Linked DNA regions of Homo sapiens: regions 1 and 2 are each linked to region 3. Evidence: fine-mapped QTL for protein levels in blood plasma. A gene starts in region 3. Each other region holds a variant in brackets. All regions are shown on one strand. Distances are from middle to middle.

Region 1 (8,186 bases), 530 kb before region 3:
GTAAAAATACACCATCTGCAGATGTAGGATAATTATTCCCTATGTGGTGAGGGCACTAAGAAAATGTACTGTGAAGTAGCAGAAGTGCTTTAATCATGCAATAAGGTGGAATCTGGTGCTGCATAAACTTGCCCTGATGAGCAATATTAAATGCCTCCCATTCCTCTCTTGATTGTATTTGATGCTGTCCTTAGGGGAGTGTAAGACTGGACCAGTATCTACAGATCTAGTGGGATGAGAGTGATTTCTCAGTAGAATTCATAATAATAAATGATTTCTGTTTTCTGAGCTAGCAGCTTCTCCATCATCCTAACTGCCGGCCCTTCACTCTGTATCCAGGCTGGATTAATTCCCAGAGAATGGAGTCATTTTCCTGATGGGAACTCTTAGCACTGATTGGAAGGAGGAGATTAGCGGGCTTTTCATTTTTGTCCTGATGCAATTTGAAAATCTCATCAATTCAAAGGTATCCTGGAGACACTGTTTCTCAATTCTTGTTTCATGTTTCTCAACCTGTATTTAACCCTTGGATCCAATTCTTTCTTCTTTGTCATTCTCTTTCAATGAATATGCATTGGTATATGTTAACTTAACACCTACTGTGTGCAATGCACAGTGCTAGATGACTTCACAAACCTACATTTTCATCCTATCTTCTTTAACATTTGAAAAAGAATAAACTGTAAAATATCTTTCTGCTCACTCCCTTACCACTATTTTTCCTGGTGTTGGCTTTGCCTCATTATGTTGCTTTTCAAGTGAAGAATTTGGGATTCCCCATACTTTAAGCCATTTGCAAAAAAGCAGATTATTATTAGAAAGCACAGAGAACACACAAATATCCTTTCATTGTGGGATTACAGCCTTAACCTATGACTTTCCTGGATTCATGGTTTCTGTTAGTTATTTTTCTATCGAGGACGAGGGGTGGGAGTGAGTTCTGCAAAATAACAGATAACTGCTTCCACTCTTTTTTTTTTTCTTTTTCTTTTTGAGACAGAGTCTTGCTCTGTCACCCAGGCTGGAGTGCAATGGCGTGATCTCGGCTCGCTGCAACCTCTGCCTCCCAGGTTCAAGTGATTCTCCTACCTCAGCCTCCTGAGTAGCTGGGATTACAGGCACACACCACCACGCCCAGCTAATTTTACTATTTTTAGTAGAGACAGGGTTTCACCATCTTGGCCAGGCTGGTCTTGAACTCCTGACCTCATGATCTGCCTTCCTTGGCCTCCCAAAGTGCTGGGATTACAGGCGTGAGCCACCGTGCCCGGCCTGCTTCCACTCTTTATTGTGCTACTTTGCAGAGGGCAAAATATACCTCATATACTTGTGGAAGAAACACTGGGCCCTTCAGTCCTTGCAGATATAGATTGTAGCCACCAGGACTCTGGTCAGCTGTCTTTCATCAAGGCACCTGAGCCACAGGGGCAATAAAAAATGGCACGCCTTAAAAAAAAAAAAAAAAAAAAAAGGGCACTTCTCCAAGCTGTGATGGCAGAGATGTCCATACTGTAAACTTAAGGAGACTATGCCTACCACCTGAGAAACAGGGTGCATAAATTCCCACATTCATATTTTATTAAATATAGACGGACCATTGAAACCTATGTCAAACAGAAACTGAGATTGTAGTAGTTTTCAAAAATTGGGAAGCAGAATATCTGTATCTACAAATACAGCTTCTTTTTAGCATCACCAGAATCATTTCATAAAGGAATCTTTAAGAGGTAGGTAATGATATGAACATTATTTATAGAGAATTCAGGACAGGAGGTTGTATGATTGTTTGAGAAGACGTACTTGCTCTCCAATCGTAGTCTGCAAATTCCTAGCCATCTGTATTTGTATTTCTCTCTCTTTTTTTTTTTTGGAGACAGAGTCTTGCTCTGTTGCCCAGGATGGAGTGCAGTGGCACGATCTGGGCTCACTGCAGCCTCCGCCTCCCAGGTTCAAGTGATTCTCTTGCCTTAGTCTCCCAAGTAGCTGGGATTACAGGCACGCACCACCACACTCAGCTAAGTTTTTGTATTTTTAGTAGAGACGAGGTTTCACCATGTTGGCCAGGCTGGTCTCAAACTCCTGACCTCAAGTGATCTGCCCGCCTTGGCCTCCCAAAATGCTGGGATTACCAGTGTGAGCCACCATGCCTGGCCTGTATTCCTCTTTAACAAGGTAACACCATGTCTTTCCTTCTTCAAGTTAATAGGTCCTTGAGAATTCATTTCTGGGAGTGGGTTAAGTGGTTCTGCAGTATACAGGTTGGATACAGATACTGGAGTCAGGTTTACCTGGTTAGAATCCCCTTCGCCTCTGTTTTTGCAGCTGTGCGACCTCAGCAAATTGTTACCTTCTCTGAGCTTTAGTTTACCCATATGTTACTGTAGGATTACATGTGATAATACATGTAAAGACTTTAGCACATCACCTGGCCAAAGGGCCCAATTAGTATTAGATACGATTTATATTCGTTATCAATTAAATTCCTAAAGGAATTTTAATTGAATTTGTTTCACCCATTTTTCTTTTTTGTGCTTAATCTAATAGAACAGTTTTTGTTTGGGGATGCTGCATTTCTCCCTCCCCATTTCTTTTCATCACTCACCTCAGCCCCAGAAAAAGTGATCCTGAAACAACTGTGGAAATGAAGTCTGCTTTGTGTTCGTCTGTTGGGAAAAGATTGGATCACCAGTCATGCTGTGGGTGTTTAGCAGGCTGCTGGCTTCTGCCCACAATAAAGAGGCATCTCTGAAGGTTCTGATATTTTTAAAAAGAGAAGCAAAAGGGCAGTTAGTGGATCTCAAGGGTTCGTATGAACGACACATTTCCCTGCCCCCACAATCCCTAGGGCTGCCTCTCTTTCCAGGGCTTCAAGTTGGCCCAGGGTATCTGGCTTTCTATACTTCTTGTTTTTCTGGGTCATGAACTGGCAGGGAGCATGCAGCACTGTGCCCTTAGCATTCAGGTGTTTCACAAGCACACTGCTTCTCTCTTGCCCTCATTAGAGTCAGCTGTCTCCAGCATACAGAGAAGGACGTGCAGAGCCTCTGTATGCATGTAGCATGGTGCACCTGGAGAGGTGACAGAAGGGCAGGGCCTCCTCCTAGGAGCCAGCTCCAGTAGCAATATGTAAATGACTTCTTGGAATTGCCAGGCTGGTCCTGGTGAGTCTGGAAGATCACCTTGCTAGTGGGCCCAATGCCAACCTGACAGATGGCCTGGGCTGCTTGCAGCACAACCAGGTTTAGGCCATCAAGTGTGTTCCCTGAAGGCAGGTGACCCATCCAGGAGTGTCAGGGAGGCTGTCCAGGGGGACAACTAAGGCTGCAATGTAATTTCCCCAGCTCTGCCTACCTCCTCTTCCCCGCAACTTGCAGTGCTCTCTAGGAAGAGGGAAAAACCAGGGCTTGCTTTCACCCTTAAAGAAAACTCTGGGTCACATAATTTTTGTTGATGTCCAGTCTGTTTTCTACATGACAGCCCCTCACAGAAGTGACCAAATGTTTCCATCAAAGGAACCAGCTACTGTAAAGTTTAAAAGGATAATAAAATAGTAATGTCTATTTGGGGCCCTAGTTTAGAAAAACCCTGTGATCTCTATAAAGTATTAAGAAAATATTGAACTTTCAAATTTTATGATTTCATGTCCTCTAAGACCACAGACCTCTTGGCATTATTTTTCTTTTGTTCTTTTTTTTTTAAGCATGAATCTTTTTTTTAATA[A/G]GAGTTAGAAAGTAAACATAAAACATTTTCTCTCACTTACATTCATAGTTTTTAAAAGCCTAGGGAAAGTTAATGTTTCTGAATTCAGCCTGTGGATTTGAGATAAGGATTCAAGGAGAGAAGGCTTTTAACTCAGAACAGAATCTGTTTGCAGCTATTGTTCAATTAATGTAAAGTATCTGGTTACTGGGCATGTTGCATAATGCATCACAGTGCAAGCCAAACGTTTTCAGTGCTGACAACGAGCTCCTTGATAACAATGAAGAGTGAGGTAATTTGTTAAATTTTTTTGGAAGTCCCCTATAACAGTCTTCTCAAGACTGAATGAATCAACACTTTCCAGCTCAGACCGCAACTGAGCTGTGTGTCTGTGTGTGCGCATGATGATAAGAAATCTAGAAGGAAACTGGGAAAACCACATCTCATGCCCTGTTTAAGAACTAGAAAAAGTGTCAGAAGAATTAAAATTAAGCCTCACGAGAGTCTGTGGGTATGGAAAGTCACCAGCTAGCTAATATTAACATAGCTTGCAACAGAACACTGTTGCTAGAAATAGGACAGTCGCATCACTACCACTAAGCAATTTGCATTCTGTGGACCAGCCCCTGAATTCCTATTGCCCTTTGGGCATTGCATTTCTGGACGCTTCTAGACAGTGTTCATACTTGGCTGTCTGGTTTCACCAGGAACTCTACCCAAAAGAGGAAACAGCAAGGAGAACATTTGCTTTGTTTGTAGGAGGGAAGTTGTCGAGCTACAAACAAATCTTTAGGCATCTGAGGAATTGCTAAGTTTCTAATTTCATATGGTTGCTGACAAGGAGGTGCAGACAAGGACCCTCTTGCTTTCCTCACTATGGATAGTCTGTTGCCTCCATCTAGATTCTCTTATTTCAAAAAATATCCTCTCCATGCAATTAGGAGATATTTATCGACGCTGAGAAACCAAAGAGCCGAAGAACAGGTATCATTTTGTTTATATTATCTTTAAAATGAACGGGTGCTTGTTCCTTGTTGCTTTTACGTCGCTTAGTGATTTCATTTGTGCTGGTTTACATGTTTATAGGTACAGGTCAGATCCTGCTTGTGGCTGTTCAGACTTGGCAATCAGAAAGCAAGCAGGCTTGTGAGAATTTATTTAAACTTGGAACATTCAGATCCTGAGATTAAGCGGAGTTCTGTAATGAAGCCACATGCTTTCTTTCTTCTAAAGAGCTACTCTATCAAAGTTAAATTTTGAATTCTTTGATCATTTTCCAATGCCTCAGATACAAAATTTGACACTATTAATATCTCAACAAAGAAAGTATCAGACCCTAGAAGTACACTTGTCTTCTTGTATTTATGGTTATGTTTACATAGCCAGAATTTGCAAAACAAAAAACATTTTATAAACTATAATAACCTTAAACAGATCATTAACAAGCTATAAAGATCATTCAGAAGCAGTTGGTCATTTTTGTGTGTGTAAAAGGTAGGAGGTAGAGCACTGCCATATTCAGTCTTTTTAGCCAATCAAAAGCTATGATTTCCAGCAGGAGACACTATCACTTGGGAATATAAGCATTTTTAAAACTGTTAAAATGTCTGATCACATCTCATTTAAAATCATGCAGTCATTTTTATGGTGTGAGATTTATATCATTCCATTTCTTTGATCTCCAAAAAAGACATTTCTAAAAATGATTTTTATGAATTTTACCAAATTGTTAGAAGAAGTAGCAATATCTGATCCATTTAAATCTAGTGATTCATTTAGGAAGAAGTGTGGCGGTGGTATACAAATGTGAAGGACAAATGTATAGCCATACCAAAGACCCAGCAGTCATAAATTGCTTGTGCATTGTGCTTGTAACTAGAACTGCAAAACTATGCAGGAGATATCACCAGTGTCCTGTATTTTTTTCTCCTTTGTGATATGAGATGACCCACTTAATAAAACACTTCCAGGAAATGCAAGATAGGTTTAGCAGACAGAAAATCCTCTCATGACAGGTTTCCCAAAAAGGCAATGCATAATTTGGAAAATAAAAATCATTGCTACTGTTTGAGAGGAAACTGCTTGTATGCCCTGCTTTAATAATTTTACAAGGGCCAGAAATTCAAACAGACTCTGTTCACTAAGGGAGCTAGGCTGGTCCAGTTTATCTTACTTAGGCAAGGTGTCACCATTAAAAGACCAACTTTTGGTTTCCAAGTTTCAGCCTGCACTTGCTTTTGATGTAGAAAGCTAGAGAACCAAGTGGTAGGGCTGTATAAGTTTTTGTTTGCCAATCTTTTAATGTTCACGGGCTTCTTCAGGCCTCATTTATTATGGAAGGAAGAGAGGTGGCTGAAAGGATGGGAACACAACTGTGGAATGTGAATTGAGTGATTTTTTTTTTCTCAGTATTGTAAGTTTTCAGAGATGTGGCTATATTGCTTGTGTAGTTCTATGGTTCTTTGTTTTTAGTTTATTGAAGAAGTATTACAAAATGCATTCAGAAGACCATTAGAATTTAACATAAAACCTCTGACTTGGACAGGGTGGGTAGTCCCTTCCCCAGTGTACAACCATTTGGGACAACCTAGGAACAGCTGGGAGTGAGTATTATGCTGAGTTCTTAAATTCTTATATAAGTGAATTGAATAATTAAGAGAAATAATATATTTGATTTCTTTTTAAAGCCAACTACAGCTCTGCAGACCTAATGTCTCACAGAATTAGAGAAATTAGGTCAGAGTTCATCATAACTAACCTTGAAAGCTTGTTGGGAAGTTATAAAGGAGGTTAATAATGTCTACAATCTTATGACCTGCATATTTGTTGCCTCTAATCCTTACATTCTTGTATAACTAATCCTTGATATAAAAGTGAAGGGATTGAGACTTAGAGCCCTTAAGAGCCCTTGCCCATGCAGCTAGAAAGTACCAGAGGAAGATGTGAATTTCTATCTCATGGCTTTAAATTTTATTCATTTTACCACGCTTGATCCCTGAACAATCTAGTAATAGCAAAATATCACCCTGCTAACTTTTCTCCTTGAGAGATTTCTAAAATTTCCTATATTCACATAGCACTGTCATAATTTTTACTGTTTACCACATCTGTATGATTAATTCCTCAATATTTTTCTGTATTTGTACTTAAATCACATTATTAGAGTTTATTTAGAAAAAAAGTTCATATCATGACTGTAAATGGAAAACCATTGTCATTAGCCGTAAGTAAAAATAATTAATAAAAGCAAAACAGTATTAAATTCTAGGTAGATACTATTGCCTGTAAAACCTCCAAGCCTGAAACCTGCTCATTTGTTAATAAGGAAGATTAGCTTTTAAGAGAAAGGTTAGAGCATCCTAGGAGCCAACTGAGAAAGTTTCCTGGGTGAGGATGGAAAGGAATTAAAAGGTAGATAATGTTTTTCAATCCAAAATGATTCAGTGTTATTGAATGTAGTGTCTGCATGCCACTTAAAATCTTCTCCCACCTCACTTAGCGCTGCTAAGTACCAACCATGTTGACTTCCACATACTTGGGGAATATTATAACAGAACACCATCTGCTTCTTTACTTTTGCACATTTAAATGAACTCCCCCCTCTAGCCTAGAATTCTCTCCTTTACTTACAACTTGCCCTCCTGGAGGTCTCCTGTACATCCTTCAATACTTGGATTAAATGGGCTCAGTGAAAAGCTTTCTCCAGTGCTGCTGGGAAGAATGAAGTCTTCCTTTTCCAAGATATTTTGTTTGCTTCAGACACAGCCCTTACTACATTCTATGTAGTAAATCATGTGATTTCATGTCGATATTCGTGCACCCATGCACACATGACACTGGATGTTATCTTGTTCTTTGTTCCCTGAGGCATACTGGAGCCTGGCAGATACTGGTGTAAAGGTGACCCACACAACAGGCAGAGGGTACACACTGGATTGACTGTGACACAGACCTCCTTTGTTGTTTTTACTAGGCCTAGAAGTTCCCCATACCCCTTTTCTGTGGTCCAAATTATGATCATTGTTACACTCACCTTGTTCACATATGCTTTATTGTTTAAAACTTCTCCTAGTGCTCTTCTCGCACTTGGTGTCATACAGACAAGAAGATTTGACATGAGGGTTGATTTGTTTGGTAGCTTTTTCTGGTGGTGGTAGTGTTATTCCTGTGATACAGCCATCAATAGGTTGGTAGGTTATTTATCAAATTGAGAACAAATATTTCATCCTTTGCTTCCCTAGATTCTCTTGCAGCAAGTGTTTCACAAAGCCAAATCCCCACATATGTAGAAGATTAACAGCATTAATGAGATGAAGATGCTGAAGGTTGGGAAAATTTGTTAACCTTTCTCTCAGAATTATTCAAATGGTGTGGTAGTAACAGTGGTGGTGGTGAACGTTGGGCAGCCTGAGCCTAAATGGAGTCTCAGATGAGTTTGAGTAGGTGTGCTGAACGCACGCATAAGGGTGTTTGGTTTCGGTTATTTT
Region 2 (8,186 bases), 580 kb before region 3:
AATTATTGATAAGAAAGTATTTACTATTGTCATATTGATAACTGTTTTCTGTTTGTTGTTGTTGTTGTTGTTGTTGTTTGTTTCTTTGTTTGTTTTTGAGACAGAGTCTTGTTCTGTTGCCCAGGCTGGAGTGCAATGGCGCGATCTTGGTTCACTGCAAACTCCGCCTCCCCGTTTCAAGCGATTCTCCCACCTCAGCCCCCTGAGTAGCTGGTATTACAGGCACCAGCCATCATGCCTGGCTAATTTTTTTTGTATTTTTGTAGAGACAGGGTTTCACCATGTTGGCCGGGCTGGTCTTGAACTCCTGACCTCAGGCGATCTGCCTGCCTCGGCCTACCAAAGTGCTGGGATTACAGGCGTGAGCCACTGCACCCGGCTCATGGTTTTTTTGTTCCTCTTTCTCTTGCCATTTTTTTATATTGCTAGGTTTGGGTTCCTTTCTCTTTTTCTTTTGTGAACTTCTATAACTATTTTATTTGTGGTTACCAAGGGCCTGATATAAAATATCTTATACTTTGATAGTCTATTTTAAGCTAATAACAATTAACTTCCCTTGCATGAAAGAACACTCTGCCTTTACCTCTCCTCCCCCTGTGTTATATGCTATTGAAGTCATAATTTGCAACTTCTTATAGTATATATCCATTAACTTTTTTAGTTATAGTTGTTTTTAATATTTTTGTCTTTTAATTTCCATAGTAGGATTATAATGGATTTACCCACTACTGTTATGGTAATAAAGCATTCTCTTTTTTGTCTTCTTTGCCAATGAGTTTTATACTTTTTAATGCTTTCACACTGCTGTTTAGCATTGTTTCATTTCAACCTGAAGAACTCCCTCCAAAAGACTCCTAGATTTGATTAATAATTTCAGTAAAGTCTTAGATTAAAAACTCAGTGTACACAAATCAGTAGCACTGTTATACACCAACAACAACCAAGCTGAGAGCCAAATCAAAAACTCAATCTCAATTCCTTTTACAACAGCTGCCAAAAAATAATTAAAATACCTAGGAACATATGTAACCAAGGAGGTGAAAGATCTCTGCAAAAATAACTACAAAATACTGCTGAAGGAAATCATACATGACACAAACAAATGGAAACACATCTCATGCTCATAGATTGGAAGAATCAATATCATGAAAATGACAATGCTGCCCAAAGCAGTCTGCAGATTCAATTCTTCTCAAAATACCAACATCATTTTTCACAGAATTAGAAAAAAAATCCTAAAATTTATATGGAACCAAAAAAGAGCCTGAATAGCCAAATCAATCCTAAGCAAAACGAATAAATATGGAGGCATCACATTACCAGACTTTAAATTATTCTACAAGAGTATAGTTACGAAAACAGCATGATACCAGTATAAAACTAGACACATAGACCAATAGAACAGAATAGAGAACCCAGAAATAAAGCCAAATACCTACAACCAACTGATCTTTGACAAAGCATTAAAAAAATATAAATTGGGGAAGGGAAACCCTATTTAATAAGTGGTGCTGCAAAAACTGGCTAGCCACATATAGAAGAATGAAACAGGATCTCTATCTCTCCACCTTATACAAAAATCAACTCAAGATGGCTCAAAGATTTAAATCTAAGCTCTGAAACCATAAAAATTCTAGAAGACATCCTAGGAAAAACTTTTCTGGACATTGATCTAGGCAAAAAAATTCATGACTAAGACCCTGAAAGCAAATGCAACAAAAACAAAAATAAATAAATGGGACCTAGTTAAACTAAAATGCTTCTGTACTGCAAAAGAAATAATCATCAGAGTAAATGAATAATCCACAGAATGGAAGAAAGTATTTGCAAACTATGCATCTCACAAAGGACTAATATCCAGAATATACAAGGAACTCAAACAAATCAGCAAGTAAAAAAATTCCATCAAAAGTGGGCAAATTACATGAACAGACATTTCTCAAAAGAAGTTATACAAATGATCAACAAACATATGAAAACATGCTCAACATTGCTAATCATCAGGGAAATGAAAATTGAAACCACAATGAGATACCACCTTACCCCTGCAATAATGGTCATGAAATAAAACTCAAAAGACAGTAGATCTTAGTGTGGATGTGGTTAAAGTGGAATGCTTATACACTGTTGGTGGGAATGTAAATTAGCACAACGTCTATGGAAAACAATATGAACATTTTTTAAAGAACTAAAAGTAAATCTACCATTCTATCCAGCAATCCCACTACTGGTTATCTATCCAAAGGAAACGAACTCATTATATCAAAAAGACACCCGCATATGTATGTTTATTGCAGCACAATTCATAATTGTAAAGATATGAAATCAACTTAAATGCCCATTGACCAATGAGTGGATAAAGAAAATGTGCTATATATACACCATGGGATACTACTCAGCCATAAAAAAGAATAAAATAATGTCTTTTGCAGCAACTTGGATAGAACTGGAGGCCACTATTGTAAGTGAAGTAACTCAGGAATGGAAAACTAAATACCATATGTTCTCATTTATAAGTGGGAGCTAAGCTATGGGTATTCAAAGGCATACAGAGTAGTGTAATGGACTTCAGAGACTCAGAAGGAGGATGGTGGGAGGTGGGGTGAGCTATAAAAACTTCATATTGGTTGTGGCTCACGCCTGTAATCCCAGCACTTTTGCAGGCCATGGCGGGCAGATCACGAGGTCAGGAGATCGAGACCATCCTGGCTAACAAAGTGAAACCCCATCTCTACTAAAAATACAAAAAATTAGCCGGGCTTGGTGGTGGACGCCTGTAGTCCCAGCTACTCGGGAGGCTGAGGCAGGAGAATTGCTTGAACCCGGGAGGTGGAGCTTGCAGTGAGCTGAGATCGCGGCACTGCACTCCAGCCTGGTTGACAGAGCGAGACTCCGTTTCAAAAACAAAAACAAAAACAAAACAAACACTTCACATTGGGTGTAATGTATATTACTTGGATGATGGGTGCACTAAAATCTCAGACTTCACCAGTATGCAATTCATCCATGTAATCAAAAATCACTTGTACCTCAAAAACTATTGAAATAAAAAATATTTTTAATAAAGAAAAAGAAAATAAAAGATAGTCAAAGTAGTAGAAATAGTTCCTGCCTTATGGCTACAAACTGTAGAGAAGCCATTAAAAGGAATATTTCTACAGTTTGTTTAAAAAAAGAAAATAAAAGAAAAAAATTGTTATTAAATACACCTGTGATAGGAACCAGGCCAGGCAATTTTACATACAATATTCACTGTATTATCACAATAACCTGTAAGTACTGTTATTCATATTTTCATGTAAAGAGACAGACTAAGTGAAGTTAGGAAATTTACTTAAAGCCATTTGATGAGAGAATGTTAAGACTTTTACCTTTGTAGTTCTGAAAATTATCAGTTATAATTTCTAAACTTCTTTCTGTTTTGTTCTTGATTTTATTGTAGGGCTACTCAACTATTTGAACACATTATGATCCCATATTATGCATACTGTATTCCCACAACATTTGCAATATTCATAAATATTAAGAGACCCGAAAATGAAACCAAGGCACAAATAAACCTATTAACGTACTTTAGTATCTTTTAAAGTTTTGCTCTCACCCCACAAAGGTTATTCTTTCATGAAAAATATATCAGATACAGTCTCTGAAAGAAAATATAATTACCATTGAAATCAATGTTACACGATTAGTTCAAATATTAACAAAGAAATGTATAGTGGTTCTTGATGTATTTA[A/G]TATTCAAAGATTAATTAAATATTTACTGCAAGAAAATAGATAAATGATTCAATGAAAACAAAGCAAAAGGTTCATGTGATTGCCAATTCTGTTTCTTAGCAAACTATGTGTATCCCAAGAACTAAATTTAAATCACCTTCAGTCAATCATGCAATAGTGAAGTTAACCACATGGTTGCTTTTAATTTTCTAAGACAAAGAACAAAATCCAAATGAGTCACCTGGTGGTATTAAATCTCCAAAAGCAAATACAAAAGAACAGGAGGCAAATATGTAAAGAATGTAAATTGGCCAGGCGTCGTGGCTCATGCCTGTAATCCCAGCACTTTCGGAGGCTGAGGTGGGCAGATCACTTGATGTAAGGAGTTTGAGAACAACCTGGCCAATATGGTGAAACCCCCGTCTCTACTAAAAATATAAAAATTAACCGGGCGTGGTGGTGCGAGCCTGTAGTCCCAGCTACTCGGGAGGCTGAAGCAGGAGAATCGCTTGAACCTGGGAAGCAGAGGTTGCAGTAAGTCAAGATTGTACCATTACACTCCAACCTGGGCATCGCGGAGAGACTCCGTTTCAAAGAAAAAAAAAAAAAGAATGTAAATCATATTAAAAAAATGGACATTATTTTTTAAAAAGTCCAGCAATATTAAGTTAAAATGATAGCTATTTAGTTAATTGTATTAACTATATGTTCAGTTGAGAATAATTCTACCTTATAGTGGCTATCTTAGATTTCATGTCATACTTATTAAATTATAATTTAAAATGGACGCTACATAAATAAAATATGCTTTGACTTATTAATTTTAAATATTGTTATTTTAAGCATTTTTGCTAAAAAACAATAAAGTGAGACTAATAAGCAAAACAAATTGTGGCATTTATATAAAATGAAATATTATTAGCCTTTGCTAATGGAGGAGATCCTGCCATTTGCAACAACATGGATGAGCCTGGAAGATATTATGTTAAGTAAAATAAGCCAGACACAGAAAGAAAAATACTGCATAATGTCACTTACATGTGAAGTCTTAAAAAAGTCAAATATATAGAAACGGAGAGTAGAATGGTGTTTACCAAGGGCAGAGACGGGGAGAAAATGGGCAGATGTAGGTTACGGGGTACAAACTTGTGGTTACATAGGATAAATAAATCTAGAGATCTGATGTATAGCATGGGGGCTATAGTTAATAATACTGTATAGTATACTGAAAATTTGCTAGAAGAATAGATTCTAGCAAATTTTAAAGATAATTATTTGAAGTGATAGATAAGTTAATTTGTTTGATTGCAGTAGCAATTTCACTATGTATGTATATATCAAAAGATCACTTTGTACATGAAATATATACAATTTTAAATAAATAAATGCCTGCTAGGAAAAAAAAGAAATGAAAAGTAGATTCACATGCCCAAGTTGTTCAAAACTTACTTAAAATTTTCAAATAACTCAATCAAGTATCAGTTTTTAATTTAAGTGAATTAAAATTAAATAAAATTTAAAATGTAGTGTCTCAGCTCCACTAGCCATATTTCAAGTGTTCAACAGCCGTATGTGGCTATTGTGTTGGACATCGCAAATGTAAATAGAGGTATTATAACTGATTTTTTTTTTCTGAATAAGGGCTATAGTTCACAGAACCATTAATTATTTTAACATTTATTTCCTTTTTGGAAAAAATTTTGTATTGACCTTCTTAAAAGCATTTGCCTCCCTTCCAACAAGAAAAATCATTCAATAATCACTGGGATTCACGCGGGTCAAAATGGCCTGGGGGGATCCAATAGATGGAGTACCAAACTCCTCTTAAAGTCTTGAATAGATGGATACTAAAAGAAGATTTTTGTGAATAAAATATTCCCATATAAAAAGAGAATAAATTCTTTTAGAAGCTTTTTCTGAGGGAAGTGGAAAAATCCAATTAACTGTTTTTATATCACCAGCTGGTTCCTTGGAGCCGAAAGAAATAACACCTCCCAGGAGTGAACATTTATTTCACTTGTAGTCAGAAATTCAGTCGCCCTGCTTCCCTCAGAGATCAGGCTGCCTGTTAAACAATATTGATGGTAATTAGGATGACAAATAACAACAAGTAATAAGGACACAAATTCTTACCCTTGCAGCTCTTCTCTAATCTTTATTTAATTTATCTATGTGTTTTCGGTACTAATGAGATTTTTTAAATCTATCTCAAATTGAGGCTCACTTTCTTGTCTTTTGAGAGTGTGGTGCTTCATGATAGTTCCATGATGCTAAAAATAATGATGATAGCTTCTATTTTATTTTAAGAATTTCCATTTTCCAGTGCCTAGTATGCACCAGACACTATTATAAGCATTTCATAATATATTAAACTATTTAATGCTCACATTTACTGAAGAAAGTAGAGGTTAAGTAACTTGCTCAAAACCATACAGCTATGATCTTCATAGTCATTATTTTAGATGGGGAATTTGTTATTGAATACTATGTGCTGCTTCCTAATGACACCTTTCCACACATACCCCATTCATTTGCCTTCATTCATTCCTTCCTCCCTCCCTTCCTTTGTTTCCTCCCACTCTCCTTACCTCCCTCTCTTTCTTCCTCATTCTATGCCTTTTCTCTCCACTTCCACTATTCAATCTATCACACAAGAGTGTGTCTTCACCACCCAAAACTGCTTTTGTTGAGGTCACAAGTGACTTCATAAATGGTAATCTCAAGGGGCCAGCTTTCAGTTGCCTTGAAAATATCTTCAGCAAGTGGTCTCTTAAACATTCTCACCTCTGGATTTCTAGGGCACATTCTCTCACCTGATTGTCTATCCATTTTCTCCACACTCCTAGTCAGTCACCTTTGCTGTGCTCCTTCTGTTTCATCTTCCCCTTAAAGGTAGGTTTCACAGATTTTCTTTTATTCATATGTGTATTAGTTTATATATAACTGTGTATATAACTGACCAAACAATCCTCTCTTCTCTACCAACACTCATATCCTGAGTGAGCTCATCTAGTCTCTTGCCTTTAAATAACATGTATAAACTGCCAACTCAATCTCCATTTTGGACTGAATTAAAAACTTACATACTCACCTGTCTTCCTGACATCTCCACGTGGATGTCTATGAGGGATCCTCAACTTAGTATGTCTAAACCTAACACCAAACAGCACCCCCATCACTAGCACACACTTAAAACCAAACCTGCCTCACCTTTTCCCACACCTAAGTTACCAAACTGGATTAACTTTATCTTATGGATTTCCATGAATTTGTTCCCTTTCATCACTATCCTAGTTCAAGCCATTGTTGTCTCTTACTAGGATCAGAATTACAACCCCCTAATTGGTCCCTGAAATGCAGTCATGTGACCTCATCCTTCTAGTTCCATCTTAACTCTTCAGCCCCATCTCTGGTCTTTTTTTCACTCACATTCTATGCTTCTATAATACTATAATTATTTTTTCAGTTTTAAAAATATTCCAAGACTGCTCTTGCCTCTGCACCTTCAAATATGCCATTTCATTTACCTGGGAGGCTCTTCCTTATTCTTTTCTCTACTCATCTTTACCGGGGCACAATAAGAGCACCTACACATAAAGATCTTTGAACAGTGCCTGGTAAAAAGTAAGCACTTTTTACTCAATATCTTTTACCATAAGTATTATTTTCAGAGATATATATAATTCTCTTTACAGGCCACATAGTCCATCTAACCTGTCTGCTTCTGTGGGCATTTATGTTGTTTCCAATCCTCGGCTATTATAAACTATCCTTATGCACATGTAATTTCAAATATGTCTTGGATCAGTTCTCTGGAAACAGGGAGTTGTGTGCAAAATACTTATTGGAGGTACTCTTAAGAGATACATGGCAGGAGAGGAGCCAAGATGGCCGAATAGGAACAGCTCTGGTCTACAGCTCCCAGCATGAGCAATGCAGAAGACGGGTGATTTCTGCATTTCCAACTGAGGTACCGGGTTCATCTCACTGGGGAGTGCCAGACAGTAGGTGCAGGACAGTGGGTGCAGCGCACCGTGCATGAGCCGAAGCAGGGCAAGGCATCGCCACACTCGGGAAGCACAAGGGGTCAGGGAATTCCCTTTCCTAGTCAAAGAAAGCAGTGACAGATGGCACCTGGAAAATCGGGTCACTCCCACCCTAATACTGTGCTTTTCCAACAGGCTTAAAAAACAGCACACCAGGAGATTATATCCCGCACATGGCTCAGAGGGTCCTATGCCCATGGAGTCTAGCTCATTGCTAGCACAGCAGTCTGAGATCAAACTGCAAGGTGGCAGCTAGGCTGGGGGAGGGGCGCCTGCCATTGCCGAGTTAGTTGTTTGATTAGGTAAACAAAGCGGCCAGGAAGCTCGAACTGGGTGAAGCCCACCACAGCTCAAGGAGGCCTGCCTGACTCTGTAGGCTCCACCTCTGGGGGCAGGGCACAGACAAGCAAAAAGACAGCAGTA
Region 3 (8,171 bases):
AGCCATTTTGATCTCAGGCTACTGGCGCTGCATTTCCCACTCTTCTTTCCCCTTGTTACTACCCATCACCCTCCCACCGCTCCACCCCTCCACGTTTTACCTCATTAACTTTGAGTCTGTCTCAGTTTTAGTGTCATTTCCTAAGGGAAGCATTCTTTATACTTTGACCTTCCAGACCAGATTAATTTCACCCATGTACCTTTTCTTCAAGTCACTCATTGCCAATTCAAATCATTCATTTGTATGTGACTTTTTGATTAGTATTTTTGTCCTCATATACTCATCAATGTTCTTGGATAGAAACAATAGAAATCATTGGGTGCGGTGTCTCACGCCTGTCATCTTAGCACTTTGAGAGGCCAAGGCAGCCGGATCACTTGAGGTCCGGAGTTCGAGACCATCCTGGCCAACATGGCAAAACCCCATCTCTACTAAAAACACAAAAATTAGCCGGGCATGGTGGCATGCACCTGTAATTCCAGCTAGTCAGGAGGCTGAGGCAGGAGAATTGCTTGAACCTGGGAAGTAGAGGCTGCCATGAGCCAAGATTGTGCCATTGCACTCCAGCCTGGGTGACAGAGCAAGACTCTGCCTCAAAAAAAAAAAGAAAAAAAAAGAAAGAAACAATAGAAATGGATTATGGTATATTTATGACAAAATTTAATTTATTGGAAAGGTATTAGGAAGCTCACAGTTTTAATGGGAAGCTGGAGAACAAGGATGAGGCAGGGATGAGGGTTGGTGAGGCACAGCCAGCATCTCGCTAGGGATAGTGGGCTTAGGATGCTGCCACCCGAGCCTTCTAAACTGGATACTTACCATTGTGCTACTGGAACCAACACCACTGGCACTCATTACTGGCCTACTGAACCCTTAACTCTGATCATATACCTTGTGTCACTTCTCCAAAATCAACATCCTGAGCAGGAGCATCTCACTGGCTGTGCTTTGGTTATAAGCCTCCTTTCAGTTACCCAAGGGCCAGAGAGGGAATATCTGCCCACTGTTACTTTCATAGCAGAAGAGGGGCTTTGCTTATTAGCATTCTTTTCAATGGCCCAGAATTGGAAACAACCAAAATGTCTCTCAATAGGTGAATTTCCCTGACAAGAAGTCTTTTGTGATAAGCCCCAAATGGCTCTAGCTGGTTGCTCTCTGCTGGTGGAACCTCCTTCCCCTTCTCCCATAGTATATTTGTCTAAATCAGTGGTTCTCAACCTTAGCTCTGCATTCAAAGCATCTGGAAAATCTGATGGGGATTAAGTGGACTGGTTTAAAATTACCTGGCAGATGGTAGATGGTGGTTTGTAGTCTTCTTCCTGCTTAAAAAGTAAGACCAGACCCTTACCTCTCTCTCCCTCTCCTTGACCAAAGGGATTCTGTGAAAGAATTTTGTGAAATGCAAAGTTTTATTCAAGTGTAAATGACAACTTTTACCTTTACTTCATGAGATGCCAAAGATCTTTTTATTTTTAACTTTTTACTATGGAAACATCAAGCTATATAAAAGTAAAAGTAAGCAGAATAACATAAGTCCTTAATAGATCCATCATCACCCAGCTTCAAAAATTATCAATTCATGGCCAATTTTACTATAACTTCAGCCTCTGCCCCTTCATTGAATTATTTTTATCATGTCATTCACAAATGTTTTAGTATGTATCTCTAACAGATAAAGAACCCTAACAAAACAGCCACCATACTATTAGCACCTCAAACAATGATCACTAAGTTTGTTTGGACAAATTAGGAATCAAATAAACCAACTGCTTCAATTGATATGTTTTCTCAATCTCTTAATGTATAGATTCTGCCACCATGCCTTTTTTCCCTTTGTAATTTATTTATTAAATAAATCAGGTCATTTTTCCTTTAAATTTTTGTTCAGTTTATATTTCACTGTTTGTATTCTCCTGATTTAAAACAAACCTATTTTTTAGAAGTTTTACATATACAGAAAATTTATAAAAATAGTACAGAGTTCCCATACACTCTACCTACTTTACCCTATAATTAACATCTACATTATTATAAAACATTTCTTATAATAATAAATCAATTTTGATACAGTATCGTCAACCAAAATCTATGCTTTATTCAGATTTCCTTAGTTTTTCTCTAATGTCCTTTTTCTTCTCCAGGATACCACATTCCATTTAGACATGTTATGTGTTCTTAGGCTCATCTTTGCTGTGAGAATTTCTCAGACTTTCATTATACTTCATGATTCCTATAGACTGAATATTTTTCTTCTCAAATTCTTATGTTGAAATCCTAACTCCAATTGTGTTGGTATTTGGAAGTAGGGCCTTTGAAAAGTTATTAGGTCATGAGGACAGAGCTCTCATGACTGAAATTAGTGACTTTATAAAAGAGACTCTAGAGAGCTCCCTCACCCCTTCTCACACATGAGGTTTCAGCACAAGACTATCTTCTATGATCCCAGAAGTGGACCCTCAGTAGGCACCCAATCTACCAGTACCCGGATCTTGTACTTCTCAGGCCCCAGAACTGGGAGAAATCAAGTATTTGTTGTTTCTAAGCCACCCAATCTGTGGTATTTTGTTCCAGCAGCCCTAATGGACTAAGACAATAACAATTTTGAGGCTTACTGGTTGGGTATTGTGTAGAATGTCCCTTCACTGGGATTTGCTTGGTGCTTTTCTCATGGTTAGAGAGGGATTATATCTTTTTGAGGGAAAACCACAGACAAAAGTACCATTTTCATTACTTCATATTAAGGGTGCATTCTACCAACATGACTTGTCAATGATGATTTTGACCTTGATCACGTGTTCAAGGTAGTGTTTGTCAGGTTTCTCCACAAAGTTACTCCTTTCTTCTCCTGTTTTCTTACTGTACTCTTTGGAAGGAAGTCATTATTCACAACCCACAAGGAGTGGGGAGCTATGCTCCACCTCCTTGAGGGCAGAGTAGCTACATGAATTATTTCCAGTTCTTCTGCACGGGATATTTTTCTCTTCTCCTCCATTTATTTACTAACACATTTTCATTATTTATTTGTATTATCAGTATGGGCCTGTAGATATTTATTTGATACTTCAAGTTATAATCCAATACTACTTATTTTGTTGCTCAAATTCTTTCAGCTTTGGCCACTAGGAACTTTTTCAGCTGGTCCCTGTGTCTCTGTTTCTTTGATATACCTCCATCAGTATCGATTTTTGTCCTTTTTTATTTGGTGAACTTCCTTAATTTCTGGCATCACAAGATGCTTTAGGCTTATTGTATATCCATGTTGCATATTTCCTGGCCCAATGTTAGAATCAGCCATTTCTCCAAAGGGCTTTGATTCCTTTTATGGAAAATGGTATTAGAAACCAAAATGTGGCAGTTGGTGTGTTTGTTGCTACTGGAATATCATTGCTTCTAAGCCCACTCAGCTGACAGAGGAAGGAAATATCTGTGCACACTAACCTTTGTATGTATACATATATGTGTGCATGTATGTATGTGTATATATATAGCCATATCTACATCAAGCTAAAAATGAATTCATACTGATGTTTCAAACTCTAATCTATTACTACATAGATCATTCTAGTCTCTTCCTAATATTTTAAATAGGTATTCCTTTGAATTTCTTATAAATTGTTAGATCAAGATGACAGTTCAATATTTTGGCAGAGATAATCCAAAGGAGGTAGTGTGCTCTTTTATCACAATGTGTATAACAACTGTCTATTCATGATGTTAGCAACCAATGATGATCATTCCCTAGATTCCATTAATTCTTTAAAGTTTAACAAATGTTAAAATTTTGATTGGCTCTGTCCTTCCTCTTTGATTACCTGGAATACTTTGTGAAATAAATTTCCTCTCATTAACTATTTGGTGGCCCTGAGGAAGAGCTCATATAAAAAAGGCAGGATAAATGCTTAGTTCTTTTCATTATTATTTTTAAAATAATAGATTGGTTTTCTAGAATCTTCCCATGCTGACTACAGAGTTATTTTTGGTTCCAGGTACCATTATGAACTTGGAACAGCTCTTTAGGTACATGGCTCAGCCCTCTACCTGCAGCCTTGAGTCCTGGGCATTCTGCCTTAGGATAGTGGAATGGGGGATGGTTGGTGGGGGTGGGGCAGAGGCAGAGAAGGATTTGAAAGGGATGGCAAGGTTGGGGGCTCTAAAGGACTTCCATATTCATCATATTCATCTAGAAAAAGCTCTGGTCTCCAAAATCATGAAAACTCGTACAGCTGTTGCCTTGGTTTTACAGTTTTTCATGTTGCCTTTGAAATCTTTGAAGTCATCTTGAAAAGTCCATCTTTAAAGTCTCAAGTAACCAGGAAAGAAAGAACAGCTTGAAGATCTGGAAAGGGCATGTTTGATCCTAAATCATTAAAGGTAGCCTATCTAGGAGAAAAACCAAGTCGCCTTTGGAATGCTAGTGGAAGGGGGAAGGCCCCGGTTCTCCACCCTGGTTATTAGTTACCTAAAACATATTTTAAAAACCGCATATGTCCCTGTAGGACCCCATACATTCTGATTCAACTGGTCTGTGGTAGGAAAAAGTGGCAGCTTTTAAAAATTTTTAGAAGCTTTTTGCGAGGTGACTCTAATGTTAAAGCAGGGCTATTTCCAAACCCCCTGGAACTCTAGCAGGCCAGTGACAATTGTATCACACCTACAGACTCATCACTTTAATGCAGTTGCTTCATGTTATTAGATAATATCCCTGCCCCACAACGCAGAAGACTAAGCTAGGAAAGATGATGTCATACAGCTCATCCCTCCTTCAAACACTGGAGCGTGATGAGTGCAGCTCAGTTCCAACACTTGGGTCTTTATTTATTATTATTATTTTTTGTAGAGACGGGGTCTCGCTATGTTGCCCAGACTGGTCTCAAATTCATGACCTTGAATGATCCTCTCACCTCGCCTCTCACAGTGCTGGGATTATAGGTATGTGCCCAGCCCTGGCTCCTCAACGTAAGACATAGCACTGTGCCCCAACCCTCAACTCCAAGAATGGCTACATTTACTTTCTGCCTGGCACTGTTCTAAGTGCCTAACATATCTCAACATCCCTAATAGGTTGGTATCATCTCCACTTAACAGATGAGCTGCTGGGATCTGAGAGAGTTAAGTGACTTGTTAAGGTCACAAACCTGTTTCTGGGTGGGTCCGGACTCTTTCCCACCATATGCCGTCACTTACAGGCTGTGAGTTTATGCCCAGCCCCCCTCAAGGAGCTGCCTCCTGCTTTCTATTGCATAATCAATATCGACACCTGGTGTAGGGGCGCTCTGCAGGGTGGGGAAGGCCTGGCCTGGAGTGAGGGATCCTGCATCTCAGCATCAGGCCCTGAGTAGGCCTCTGCCCTTGTGGTAGGGTAACCCACCCTCCTTCATAGCTCAGAGGTCTGAGGGGGTTTGAGGGAAAGACTAGAAAGCCTAGGAGGCTTCTTCTATCTCTCACCCCTCCTCACTCCCAGTCCTGTGCCACAGGATTTCACTCACAGCTCCTTCCACCCCCACCCTTCCCCTGAAAATCTCACTGCCCTGTGACTTCTCTATGTGCCACTCCCTGTGCGTCAGACCCCCACGATCAGCTGCCCACTGCCTATGGCCACCCCAATTCCTTAGAACTACACTTATCACTGCTCACCCTTCTCCTACTCTCCCCCTCTCAGAAAATGACACCACATCCAGGAAACTCGGAACCACCACTAGCCCAGCGCTCCCTCTTCCCCATTCACTCAGTCACCAAGTCCCCTCAATTTCACCACTCAAGATAGTTGTCAGACCATGGCGCCTGTCCATCTCCATTTCCCTAGGATAGGCCTTGGTGTCTGAGGCCAACCCTGCCTCATTTCCTCCTAACCCCCACCCAGGCCTTGTGCTTTGTGTACCACCACACCCAACCAAAGGTAGTTATTACTTCTTTGGCTCCCAGCACTCAACTGAGCGCCCCAGCTCTTCCTCACCTGCCGGGACACTCCAGCTGACTCCAGATTGCGACGCAGGCGTTTACGTACCAGCCTTTCTCCAGGTTCAGGGCGCTGCCACATCTTCAGCCCCGACCCGCCGCAAGTCTCATTTCCTCCTAACCCCAACCCAGGCCTTGTGCTTTGTGTACCACCGAACCCAACCAAAGCTAGTTCCCTGACTTGCTCTTTTGGCTCCCAGGAGCCTTTAGGTACCGGCCTTGCGCCAGGTTTAGGGCGCGGCCACACCTCTAGCCCCGCCCCACCGCAGGCCCAACCCAGAGGCTGCTTTCGGTTACCCTAGGGTTCCTGGGCCCTGGACTTCAACCCGGTCTGCAAGCCCCGCCCTGATTAGCTGCCTCCCGCACCGGTCGCGGCGCCCCGCCCCCAGGCGCCTAGGTTCCTCCCCTTATCCCTGCAGGGATTGGGCCTTGCAGCACCGCCCAGGCTCGGATTGGTCCGAGGTGAGACCCGCCCCTCTGCCCATTGGGCCTTCGGGACAGCAGAGGAGCAGTGTCCGGCCATGGCCGGAGCCCGCAGGCTGGAGCTAGGCGAGGCCCTGGCGCTGGGGTCGGGCTGGCGTCATGCGTGCCACGCTCTCCTCTACGCGCCGGACCCTGGGATGCTCTTCGGCCGCATCCCGCTGCGCTACGCCATACTGGTGAGAAGGGGGCGCGCCCGGCCACTTTCTGCCTGAGCCCCGCACCCTCTCTGGTGGTCTCCTCTGGGGCGCCCCTGCCAATCCCCGCTTCCCCCTCCCGCAGATGCAGATGCGCTTCGATGGACGCCTGGGCTTCCCCGGCGGATTCGTGGACACGCAGGACAGAAGCCTAGAGGACGGGCTGAACCGCGAGCTGCGCGAGGAGCTGGGCGAAGCGGCTGCCGCTTTCCGCGTGGAGCGCACTGACTACCGCAGCTCCCACGTCGGGTCAGGGCCACGCGTTGTGGCCCACTTCTATGCCAAGCGTCTGACGCTCGAGGAGCTGTTGGCTGTGGAGGCCGGCGCAACACGCGCCAAGGACCACGGGCTGGAGGTGGGACCAGCCTGGGACTCTGTCCCTTTCCCAATTTCCTCTTCTCCCAAAGCTTTCTCTCCCCCAAGAAAGCATCCCTGGAGAAAAGTCTTTGCCCCTCTGACCTTGCCCTCTCCCCAGCTTTCTTGGTGGAGTTGGGATCGTGATCATCTATACTCTGAATTAGTACTGCCAACCTGGGCTTTCTGTAAAGGTCTTTCCCACCCTTTACCAGGAGAGATCCTTTCTAGAACACACTCATCCATGTCTCTCTGCTGTTCCCTATTGACAGTGTGATAGATTATCACATTATCTAGGTGTGGCAACCTAGGTTTTATTCTTGGGGTTTGCTTTTCTTGTGTAGGAGATGTGGCCCTGATATTTCAGGCAGGGCTAGTAGATAGATTATGTATGAAGGTGGTTCTCAAAATTTGGCAGGTAGCAGAATCATCGGGGCGTCTTATTAAAATAGCGATTTCTCTCAGCATTCCTGCATTGGTGGTGGGGCGGGGGGAGAGGAAACCTGAGAATTTGTAGTTTTCAAAAGTTCCCAAATAATGCTGATGCAAATAATCTGAGGACCACATTTTGACAACCACTGGTGAAAGGGTATGAATACATCTTTGAGGCAGTAGCCACTAGAGGTTTAGAAGCAGATGTGGGAAAGATTAATTGATAGAGCTAGATAATATGTTTTGGGTCATTTTCCTGCAGAAGGTTGGGCCACTAGGCTTTAGTGAGGTGTGAGCCTTGGGCCTGGTTCTGCTGGAGTATTAAGGGGTGAGGCCTGATCTGCTGGAGAAAGGATGGAGTTAAGGGAATGAGCCACCTGGGGCCCTAGTGTCTCCTGTCTCCTTCCTTTTACAGGTGCTGGGCCTGGTGCGAGTGCCCCTGTATACCCTGCGGGATGGTGTAGGAGGCCTGCCTACCTTCCTGGAGAATTCCTTTATTGGCTCTGCGCGGGAGCAGTTACTTGAAGCTCTCCAGGACTTGGGACTGCTGCAGTCTGGCTCTATTTCAGGCCTTAAGATTCCAGCTCATCACTAGAGGCAGCCCTCCATGGACCCATGAAAACTGAGATGAGGACCTTGGTACTAGGGAGGGAGGGAAGGACGTGGGAATGTTTTCTTATTGGATCTGAGAGATGATACATGATACCAGATGAAAAGAAGGAGAAGTGTGTACCATATGTTTTGAGCAGAGGA

Which allele goes with the higher level. Alleles are on the strand shown, and positions count from the first base shown. The strength of an association depends on the size of the effect and on how common the allele is.
For the plasma level of the protein whose gene starts at base 6,446 in region 3, A is the high allele of the variant in region 1 and G is the other (moderate association).
For the plasma level of the protein whose gene starts at base 6,446 in region 3, allele A in region 2 goes with a higher level than allele G (moderate association).

What was found. PIP is the chance, under the fine-mapping model, that this variant and not a neighbour inherited with it causes the effect. Protein levels are from antibody-based Olink assays in UK Biobank. Linkage for the fine-mapping came from a reference panel and not from the study's own genotypes, which makes the PIPs less certain.
Region 1: its variant is fine-mapped to the plasma level of the NUDT16 protein (UK Biobank, PIP above 0.99).
Region 2: its variant is fine-mapped to the plasma level of the NUDT16 protein (UK Biobank, PIP above 0.99).

What each region holds. Positions count from the first base shown.
Region 1 is chr3:130,846,246-130,854,431 of GRCh38, forward strand. LOC107986023 (a long non-coding RNA gene) reads right to left here. Exons shown (of 3, transcript XR_001740492.2): 2 at 2,603-2,754. LOC105374108 (a long non-coding RNA gene) reads left to right here. Exons shown (of 3, transcript XR_924486.3): 3 at 340-425. It also overlaps a transcript of ATP2C1 not described here. Among named protein-coding and RNA genes, the nearest start is that of ATP2C1, 44 kb to the right of the region's middle. RefSeq lists an enhancer at 3,937-4,016. The variant A/G (reference allele first, on the strand shown) is at 3,721.
Region 2 is chr3:130,797,040-130,805,225 of GRCh38, forward strand. The region is part of intron 2 of LOC107986023 (a long non-coding RNA gene); the gene reads right to left. Among named protein-coding and RNA genes, the nearest start is that of PIK3R4, 54 kb to the left of the region's middle. The variant A/G (reference allele first, on the strand shown) is at 3,738.
Region 3 is chr3:131,375,329-131,383,499 of GRCh38, forward strand. NUDT16 (nudix hydrolase 16) reads left to right here and starts at 6,446. Exons shown (of 3, transcript NM_152395.3): 1 at 6,446-6,614; 2 at 6,718-6,987; 3 at 7,834-8,171. The coding sequence starts at 6,477. The coding sequence ends at 8,013. NUDT16-DT (NUDT16 divergent transcript) reads right to left here and starts at 6,147. Exons shown (of 4, transcript NR_038976.1): 1 at 6,005-6,147; 2 at 1,284-1,379. RefSeq lists enhancers at 5,755-6,024, 6,316-6,885, 6,886-7,454 and a silencer at 6,135-6,434.